2 separate regions of the Homo sapiens genome follow, and region 1 is linked to region 2. Evidence: fine-mapped QTL for protein levels in blood plasma. A gene starts in region 2. The other region holds a variant in brackets. All regions are shown on one strand. Distances are from middle to middle. Region 1 has its middle 400 kb from the start of CCSER2. Region 2 holds the start of CDHR1 (cadherin related family member 1).

The links. PIP is the posterior inclusion probability: the model's chance that the variant is causal. Protein levels are from antibody-based Olink assays in UK Biobank. Linkage for the fine-mapping came from a reference panel and not from the study's own genotypes, which makes the PIPs less certain.
Region 1: its variant is fine-mapped to the plasma level of the CDHR1 protein (UK Biobank, PIP above 0.99).

The regions. Positions count from the first base shown.
Region 1 is chr10:84,723,768-84,729,142 of GRCh38, reverse strand. No RefSeq gene overlaps it. Among named protein-coding and RNA genes, the nearest start is that of CCSER2, 400 kb to the right of the region's middle. The variant T/C (reference allele first, on the strand shown) is at 2,419.
Region 2 is chr10:84,191,843-84,197,160 of GRCh38, reverse strand. CDHR1 (cadherin related family member 1) reads right to left here and starts at 2,624. Exons shown (of 17, transcript NM_033100.4): 1 at 2,346-2,624; 2 at 1,572-1,667; 3 at 511-656. The coding sequence starts at 2,400. RefSeq lists silencers at 2,409-2,528, 2,599-2,728.

The DNA of each region.
Region 1 (5,375 bases), 530 kb before region 2:
TCCATGTTTAGTGCTTCATTCAGGAGCTCTTGTAAGGCAGGCCTGGTGGTGACAAAATCTCTCAGCATTTGCTTGTCTGTAAAGGATTTTATTTCTCCTTCACTTGTGAAGCTTAGTTTGGCTGGATATGAAATTCTGGGTTGAAAATTCTTTTCTTTAAGAATGTTGAATATTGGCCCCCACTCTCTTCTGGCTTGTAGAGTTTCTGCAGAGAGATCCACTGTTAGTCTGATGGGCTTCCCTTTGTGGGTAACCCGACCTTTCTCTCTGGCTGCCCTTAACATTTTTTCCTTCATCTGGGTGAATCTGACAATTATGTGTCTTGGAGTTGCTCTTCTCGAGGAGTATCGTTGTAGTGTTCTCTGTATTTCCTGAATTTGATTGTTTGCCTGCCTTGCTAGGTTGGGGAAGTTCCCCTGGATAATATCCTGCAGAGTGTTTTCCAGCTTGGTTCCATTCTCCCCATCTCTTTCAGGTATACCAATCAAACATAGATTTGGTCTTTTCACATAGTCCCATATTTCTTGGAGGCTTTGTTTGTTTCTTTTTACTCTTTTTTCTGTAAACTTCTCTTCTCACTTTATTTCATTAATTTGATCTTCAATCACCCTTCGATTCACCCTTTCTTGCACTTGATCTAATCAGCCATTGAAGCTTGTGCATGTGTCACATAGTTCTCATGCCATGGTTTTCAGCTCCATCAGGTCATTTAAGGTCTTCTCTACACTGTTTATTCTAGTTAGCCATTCGTCTAATCTTTTTTCAAGGTTTTTAGCTTCGTTGCAATGGTTTGAACATCCTCCTTTAGTTTGGAGAAGTTTGTTATTACTGACCTTCTGAAACCTACTTCTGTCAGCTTATCAAAGTCATTCTTCATCCAGCTTTGTTCCATTGCTGGCAAGGAGCTGCGATCCTTTGGAGGCAAAGAGGTGCTCTAGTTTTTAGAATTTTTAGCTTTTCTGCTCTGGTTTCTCCCCATCTTTGTGGTTATATCTACCTTTGGTCTTTGATGCTGTTGACCTACAGAAGGGGTTTTAGTATAGATGTTCTTTTTATTGATGTTGATGCTATTCCTTTCTGTTTGTTAGTTTTCCTTCTAACAGTCTGGTCCCTCAGCTGCAGGTCTTTTGGAGTTTGCTGGAGGTCCACTCCAGACCCTTTTTGCTTGGGTATCACTAGCGGAGGCTTCAGAACAGCAAATATTGCAGAACAACAAATATTGCTGCCTGATCCTTCCTCTGGAAGCTTTGTCCCAGAGGGTCACCTGCCCGTATGAGGTGTCAGTCGGCCCCTACTGGGAGGTGTCTCCCAGTTAGGCTACACATGGGTCAGATACCCACTTGAGGAGACAGTCTGTCCATTCTCAGAGCTCAAACATCGTGCTGGGAGAACCACTGCTCTCTTCAGGGTTGTCATCAGGGACTTTTAAGTCTGCAGAAGTTTCTGCTGTCTTTTGTTCTGCTATGCCCTTCCCCAAGAGGTGGAGTCTACGGAGGGCCTTGCTGAGCTGCGGTGGGCTCCACCCAGTTTCAGCTTCCTTGGCTACTTTGTTTACCTACTCAAGCCTCAGCAATAGCGGATACCCCTCCCCCTGCCAGGCTGCTGCCTCACAGGTTAATCTCAGACTGCTGCGCTAGCAGTGAGCAAGGCTCCATGGGCATGGGACCCACCAAGCCAGTTGCAGGATATCATCTCCTGGTGTGCCATTTGCTAAGACTGTTGGAAAAGCACAGTATTAGGGTGGAAGTGTCCCGATTTTCCAGGTACAGTCTGTCACGGCTTCCCTTGGCTAGGAAAGGAAAATCCCCTGACCCCTGTGCTTCCCAGATGAGGCAATGCCCCGCCCTGCTGCAACTCGCCCTCCATGGGCTGCACCCACTGTCCAACCAGTCCCAATGAGATGAATCAGGTACCTCAGCTGGAAATGCAGAAATCACTGTCTCCTGCGTCAATCACGCTGGGAGCTGCAGTTCCTATTCGGGCTTCTTGGAAGGGGCTTTTTTCTCTCCTGCCTAATTTAAAAATTGACAAATGATCTGAACAGGCATTTCAACAAAGATGATATACAGATGGCAAATAAGTATATAAAAAGATGTACAACATCCTATATGATTAGGTAATTGCAATGAGATACTACTACACACCTATTAAGATGGCTAAAATTCAAAAAAAAAAACAAAAAACCAACACAATACCAAATGATAGTACCAATGTGGAGCAATAGGAACAGAAACTTCTCATTCATTTGATGGGAATTCAAAATGGTATAATCACACTGGAAGACAGTTTGGCAGTGTCTTACAAAGCTAAAAGACTTACCGTACAATTTAATCTTTGCACTCCAAGGTATTTCCCCTAATGAGTTGAAAACTTATGTCCACACAAAAACCTGCACGTGAACATTTATAGTAGCTTTAT[T/C]CATAATTTTCAAAATCTAGAAGTAATCAAATGGACCTTAAAAAGATGAATGGGATATATACACATATTATATATCCATGGTAATTAAAAATTAATATTTTTCAAACATGAATGGATAAACAAACTATTATACATTCATACAATAGAATCTGATTCAATAATAAAAATGAACTATCAAATCACAAAATGGCATGGAGGAATCTTAAATGCATATTGCTTAGTGAAAGAATCAGTCTGAAAAGACTATATATTATACATTTCCAACTATATGGCATTCTGGAAAAGGCAAAACCTATAGGCACTGAGAAGATCAGTAAATACCAGGGATTGTCGAAAAGAGGGAGAGGGATGAATAGGTAGAGCACAGGGAATTTTTAGGACTCTGAAACTATCCTGTATGACACTGTCATGGTGGATGCATGACATTACGTATTTGTCAAAACCTATAGAATGTACAACACAAAGTGAACCCTAATATAACCCATAGGCTTTATTTAAGAATAATGTATCAATATTGGCTAATCATTTGTAACAGATGTATCACTGTAATGCAAGATGCTAATACCAGGGGAAACTGTGAGGTGGGATGGGAGTATATGGAACCTCTTTGTATTATTTGCTCAATTTTCTATATACTTAAAAACTGCTTTGAAAAAAATTCTATTAATTAAAAAAGAAAAACATAGACAGTGAGAAAATACTTGCAAATTAGAGATTTGATAAAGAACTGAATCTAGAAAACATAAGGAACTCTCAAAACTCAATAGTAAGAAATTAAATAGCACAGTAAAAAGGGAGGAGGTATTTAAACAGATAAGTCACTAAAATAGATATTCAAATGGCAAATGAAAATATGAAAGGATGCTCAACATTATTCATCATTAGAAAAATTTGAATTAAAGCAACAATAACATCCCACTACACAACCCATTAGGATGGCTAATATTTACCAGAAAGAAAATGACAATACCAAATTCTGGGAAGAATATAAAGCAACTAGAACACATATGCACCATTAGTGGAAATCCAAAATGACACAGCCACTTTAGAAAATGGTTTGGCCATTTCTTTTAAAATGAAACACATTTGATAAACAGCCTTGCAATTTCATCCTTAGATATTTACCCAAGAGAAATGAAAACATATATTCATAGAAAAACTGGTAACAAGGGTTTATAGTGGCTTCATTCATAATCACCAAAACCAGGAAATGCCCAAAAGTCTTTAAAGAGGAAAATGCACAAACAAACAGTGGTTCATTATATAATGGAATGCATCAATTTAATGGAATACAATGCCTACTAAAAAGGATTCATCTATGTCTGATAAACATGACATAGATGAATCTCAAATGTATTATGCTACCTGATTAAAAAAACAAGCTCAAAAGATTATATACAGAGTGATTCCATTTATTACCCTTTTTAAAGTCAAAAATACCTACAGAAAACAGATCGCTGATTGTCAGGATATGGAGGTATGGGGAGAAATTGACTATGAGGTGACAGAAATGTTCTTTATATTGATTTTATTGGGCACAGGATAACTTCTTGAGGTAATAAAAATGTTCCTTATCTTGGTTTTATTGGCGGCTACACAACTGCATGCATTTTTCAAAACTCTTAGAAGTTTAGAAGGAAGAATTTGAATTTAATGTAGACACTTTCCCTTAGTAAATCTGATTTTAAAATATATGCTTAGACAAATCCTGAAGGAGACCACATCTGCTCAACTGGATGGGAAGTCCTCTCTTTACAGGCATTCTCCTGTAGACACACCTCCATGTCTACCATTGTCCACCTTTTGTGCATTGCACTTTGACTTTTCCATACATGTCCAGAGAGCAGCTCCTTCAGGGCTCTAGTGAGCCTCTCTTCCTTAGAAGAAACTTAGGAGAGGAAAGAGAGTGAGATGAACCACAGGCTTCATTGCTAGAGGTGGTATTCAGGTTGCAATTGGTATTCATCATCTCCCTTCTGTACTATCCATTCTAAATTCTTTCTGCCCTCAATGTTGAGGTGATAACTTTGCAGATCAGAATCAATTACAAAACAAGGACTCCCTTCTTGCCTGCTGATTTCTGGACACAGTTAACCCAGTGGGTCCATACAGCGTCCATAAATTTTAGTTCAATTGTACCCTTGCTGGTGAACATGTATCTTTCTGGGGGACAGAGGCCTCTAACTCTGCAAAGCTCAGAGCTGCACATAGAAATCACAAATTCCTCCACTGAGACATTAGCAATGGTGTCATGTAGGGCCTCTCCTGCTTCCACCCCTTGTTTCTCTGACTTATCTGTTGTTCCTGTTGAGGACACAGCATTGCATAAAATTCTCTGTTTCAATGCATGTACCACTTTCTGAAGAATGGTACTCCATCTTTGCAGAGTATTTTTCTTGAACAGTGATTCATCTGTGCCTTCAGCAGGCCATTCCAACAATCTATCAGGATGAAAGCTTCTGAGTGATGATGTATCCAGTACAACTGGTAGATCCCAAGGTCAGTGGTCTACTCCCACACCTCCTTGACTAGAAAGTTGGTTCCCTGGTCAAATGCTGTGTTATATGAAATTCTATCGATAATTATCTAAGGTTTGCGAGTTGGAAAGACGATCCTTAGATATCCACTCTTGAGAGGATAAAACTCCAGCTCTTCCAGAATAGAAGGGAACAATATAGTCAACTTACCACCAAGTGGAAAATGAATCTCTTCAAAGAATACCATCATCCCAGGAGCAGAGCATAGGTTCTCTTGCTGGCAGGTAGGACATCCAGAGGAGAGTTTCTTGACTGGCCATTTTAAATCTTAGTCCATGACACTTTATCTAGCCTCCATGTCTCTGTCATTGTGGCCACTTCATTCTCACAACACAACTCTGACACCAGATGTGTGTGAGTTTTTTCCCATATATTATGGAAGCAATTAATTCTGCAGCAGAACACCAGCTGGGTCCTCTC
Region 2 (5,318 bases):
GCTGAGGTCCAGTTAGCCACACACCAGGCTGCTATGCGGTCTGAAAAAGCCCATGCCCTGTTGCCTGCAAGTTCTCAAGTGTGTAGAGTGGAGGAGCTCTGCCAAACTCAGACTCACTGCCAACCACCCTTTCCAGCCTTGACCTGCTCTGAGTTCCTGTGCCTCTCCCAGGACAGGCTTGAAAAATCACTTTGTGAGGTTTCTTTCAGAAACCTCAAAGTGCAAACGGATTTATTTTTAATGGAACATGCTTAAAAGATTAGCAGGGCTGGCAGGTGCTCGTTAAAGGAGCCCACTCTTCGCTCTGTGTGAAGGAGGAGCATGAAAGTAAAGCCCACTCTGCTGATGGGAAGTGGCCCAGAGATCTCACAGAGTGGATGTGCCTGGGGTGTGCCCCCTCATCCCCTACTCTGTGGAGAGGTTCTAACCAATGTGCTCCAGGGGAACTTCAGCCCACCGAGGTCTGTCTACAGGCAGTGGCCCCGCAGCACTCCCCACACCTCCCCATACCTCTCTGTCCAGCTCTTCAACCAGGGTGATGTTTCCAAAAGTGGGGTCAACAGAAAAGACGCTTCTAGTGCTGGGGTCAAAGCTGATGTGGTAGGAGATGGGGTCTCCCTCAGGGTCTGTCCCATTCAGGGTGTATACGTGAGAGCCTGGAAGGAAACACAGTGGAGAGACATAGAATCTGAGACCCAACTTTTCCTAAAAGTGGCAGATGCTCAGGACCAACGATTCAGCTGTTTATAAAGTGACTATTCAACTCAGTGCCAAAGGTACTGCCCTGAACTTGGTGCTCATTGCTGGCCTCACCCCTGCTGGCTGCTTCCCTCTTTGTATGTTTATTCTTCACAGCGGGTGGTTGTGATGATCAGCCACTTTCCAGATTGTAATCTATAACACGGGTTACAGAGCAGGTGCAGGTCTGCCGTGCCTAACTGTAGTGCCTATGTTCTGCTCAGCCTGGTAATAACTCCTCTCTCAGGATCCAAGATTGAGGGGCTCCTGGGTACAGGGAAGGGGAAATGGGAGCAGCCATTAAGGCAGGAGGGGTGACCCACAGTGCACCACTGTCCCCGATGCCTGGACCTGGTTCTGCAGGGATTTCTGAGCCAGGTGCCTACTTTGCTCTGCTCTCCCTTTTCCCCGGGTTCCCACTACCCACAAAGTGAGGGAGAAGGAGTGTGAAATCTCCCCTTTCTCCTCCCCTCTCTCTGCATATCTCAGCAAGTTGGATGTTCTTAGGCCGTTTTAAAGCCTAGAGACCTGGGGCTCAGGGAGGTAAATACATTTGTTCAAGGTCACACAGCCATAAGGGGCAGCTGTAGCTGCCTGCCTCGCGGGGCGACCCTGTCTGTGGGGGGGAGCCCTGGTCTCCAGGACTGGCCAGACTTAAGTCGCCATGGCAGCAATGACCTTCTTTCCTGCCATTGCCCAGGGGAATTCGGAGAGCAAACAAGGAGCCCCCGGGCGCGCGCAGCAACTTGGGTGGTGCCTGGGGCACTTTGTGTTCTAAGTCTGCCTGCACCCCTCAGGGAGACCTATCGGGAGCAGGTGCCAGGGCTACTCACCTACAGGGGTGTCCTCTGGGAGGCTGAACAGAGCCATGTTTCCGTTGGTGCTGCCGACCCCGTTGTCGAAGAAGTGCGGGGCGAAGTTGGCCTGAGCTGGAAAAAGAACACAGAACAGACGGACACCCAGGCAAAGGACACCCAGACACCAGGAGGGAGCTTCGCACCAGCGCGGTCCCGCGTCAGGCCCAGCTACTGGGCAGGAGGGCGCTCCGCCTCCCCAACCCAAGTGCACCGAGGGACCCCACTGGGGCGCCGCCCAGAGGATGCCCCTGACCCCCACTCCGCCCCCGGTGGGCTCGGGCTTGTCAGGGACACGTAGCATGTGGGCGCTTAGAACCCAGGTAGCAATCCAACCCCTCCTTCATCAATGGGCAGATTGCACCCGCGCTCGGAGAGGGGCAGTGCCCCAGCCCAGCCAAGGTCAAGCCGCGAGTCAGGGCACTATCTCCTGCCCCACGCAGCATCGGAGCTGCCACCAAGCCTACAGCTCTGGTTCCCAGCAAGCGGAGAGCAGCGGGGGTCCGGGCGCCAAACCCTGGGGCCCTAGGATGCCAGCTCTGGAGAAGCGCCCCGGAGCTCCCCACTACTCCGCTACCCCACTCCCCACTACCGAATGGGCCAGGAAGATGGAAGGACTTCTCCGCTCCCGTCCACCAGCCCGAGTCCCACTCTGGAAGTGGTCCAGGACCATGTCCCTCTGGCCACCTGGGTGACGCCAGCGCCCATCTCCCTCGCCATCCACGCGGCCAGCGCGGCCCAGCGGCCACTCACCCAAGCAGAGGCGCAGCAGCCCCAGGGCCAGGGCGGCCCACCGGCAGCGCCTCATGTCTCCGCCGGCGCGGAGTGTCGCCTGCCGCCGCCGAGACCGGGCGCAGGGGCACGGAGCATGCCCTGGGCCCGCGGGGAGGGCAGAGACCACAATGGGGGTAGCGGCGACTGCAGCCGCGGCGGGAGGGGGCACGGGGCGGGAGCGGCGGGTGGCGTGAGGGCGCTAAGAGGATGACACGGCTCGGATCTGCTCCTGCCGGCCGCCTGACGAGACCAATTAGCGGCGCAGAGCGGAGCGACAGGCTCCCAGCCGCGGGCGGGGGCAGGAGGGCGTGACAAGAGGACTCCCCGCCCGCCACGCCCCCTTTGCCGGCGGCCCCCAGTCCTGGACAGGAGGACACCATGGGGGACAGGAGTGTCTTTCCCCCAAGTTGTCCTGAGGCTTTCCCAGGGTACTTAAGTCCTGGTGGGGCTTGGGCTTCGCAGTTTTCTTTTCTCATCAACTTCCTCTGTGACTTTCAGGGGCTTAGCTGTCTTCTCTGAGCTAAGCATTCCAGAAGAAAAGTTAGTGGAGCGGCCGAGAGGGCCTTGCCTTAGCAGTCTAAGCAGGTTCTATAAGCCGCGTGAGACCAAAGGCAAAGAGAAAGGGTGATGGATGGGCAGCAGATGGTAAGGGGTTATCAGGACCCCCTCTCTGTGATCTCAACCCATTCCTGCCCTGTTCCCCAGGCTGGACCACCTCTCCCAAAGGGTCTGATCTGTGTGGTGGGCAGCAGGGAGGACCCTCAGGTGTCCACCAGGGTGAGAGGCAGTTCTGCTCCCCATTCCCAGTCAGTGCCCAGTCTGGGACCATGAAGGGGCAGCTGACCCACTCTTCAAACCTTCCAAGGAAGAGTGAAGGGCCTGAAGGCAGAGTTAAGCCCCATCTTAGGACAGACTTGCACAGAGCTGGCCAAGATAGATCTGAACTGCCCGAGAGGCACGAGATCTCATTCCTAGAGGGTATTTACACAAAGCAAGGCACTGCTATTGGGGTCCTGGATGCTGATAACTTGAAGACACAGGTAAGCCCAGGAACCTTTTTGGCTGCTGGTAAAGCTCCTTGGGCTTCCTCGTTCTCCTGCTCTGACACTGGAGGGTGCTTGGAAATGCAGCCTGTTTTCCTTTTCCTGGTTGGGCCATTTATGGGGGTACAGGTCACTTCAAGCCCAAGCCAGGCCACTTCCCAGGATGCCCTTGGGTGGATGTGTTCTCAGATAGAGGAGATCCCTCCTCTGTGTGCTCCTGGGAGAGGTCTCCACAGCTGAGGACTCAGCATTCCCCCCCTCCCCCTGCCAGGGGCCTTTGAGGGAACAGAGCACCCCCCATCCCTTGGTCTAGCCCTACATGATCTACTGTGAGCAAGGGTCAGGGATTTGCAGAGAAGAAGGAAGATGAATCAATGGTTTTAGAATGTGCAGCAGTTTTCAGGCCTAATTGGCCGAAACCCTTGTTGAGTCTCCTTAGGCTTGGCTCTTTTGCTGAAAAGACACACTTTAAATTGCACAGATGTTCTGAATCTGCCTCCCAAAGTGCTGGGACAAAGCTAAGGCAAGTATTCTGCAAGTCCCATATAGGGATGTGGAGACTGAGTCTTGCCGTGGATTTCCCAGGAGCCAGAGGCAGAGCCAAGGTTTCCTGGAGTAGATGTCTTGGTGGGCCGAGAAAAGCCAGCTCTCCCTGGGTCCTGTTAGCCCTGCTCCTCACCAATCTAGGGCCGTTGATTTCTCTCTCCTCAGTTCCCTCAGTCAACAGCCATGCACTGGAGAGGGAAGGGGAAGGAGTAGCCTACATGCCATGTGCTGTATGTGTGCTTATGTATATTTGCCCATATTATCTTATTTGACCTGCACTGCTCTCCCAATGTGATTTTCTCTGCTTTGCAGAGGAGGGAGATTTCCTCATTGGCTGTGTACGACCAAGCAAGTGACTTATTCTCTCTGAGGTGCAGAGCTTGGATTCACATACAGTTTGGGTTGGCTCCAAAGAAGGTTCAAACTCTTTTTTTTTTTGAGCTGGAGTCTCACTCGGTCACCCAGGCTGGAGTGCAATGGCGGATCTCAGCTCACTGCAACCTCTGTCTCCTAGGTTCAAGTGATTCTCCTGCCTCAGCCTTTCAAATATTGGCATTACAGGTGCACGCCACCATGCCCAGCAAATTTTTTTTCTTTTTTTTTTTTTTGGTAGAGACGGGGTTTCACCATGTTGGCCAGGCTAGTCTTGAACTCCTGACCTCAGGTGATCCACCCATCTTGGCCTCCCAAAGTGCTGGGATTACAGGCATGAGCCACTGTGCCCGCCTGGTTCAAACCCTTTTCATGGCAGAAGAAGATGATCTTGAATCTACTGAAGCTTCAGCTTCTAGGCCTCTCACTCACACATCACACATTCCTTCCAGAGCCCCAGTTTTGTATTTTACTTTGTATTTTCTTCTTCTTTCTTTTTAGAGATAGGGTGTTATTATGTTGCCCAGGCTGGCCCTGAACTCTAGGGATCAAAAGACTCTCCTGCCTCAGCCTCCTGAGCAGCTGAGAATACAGGCAGCACCATTACATCTGACTTCTATTCTGATGTAGAAGGGTCTGAGAAAGACCCTCCACACCCCCCACTCCAACTCCTGCTGCTTCCTTCAGCTGTTTTAGGTTCAGATCTGCTAGTGTAACCAGCTGCCCAAATTTGCCTGGGACTGAGGGGTTTCCAGGGATGCAGGACTTTCAATGCTAAAACCAGCAAAGCCTAAGGTAACCTGGTATTTGGCGGTCACCCTAGATACAACCCTGTCCTCAAATCACCTAAGGACCTGGGAAAACAGCAGCTCTTTATGGTGGTTCTCACCATGGACCCTGATCTTGACCTTGCAGTATGGAAGGTCTTGGCTTGTCAAGGCTCAGTAGGACTCATCTGCCATGAGACATGGGACCTGACCCTCACTTACAG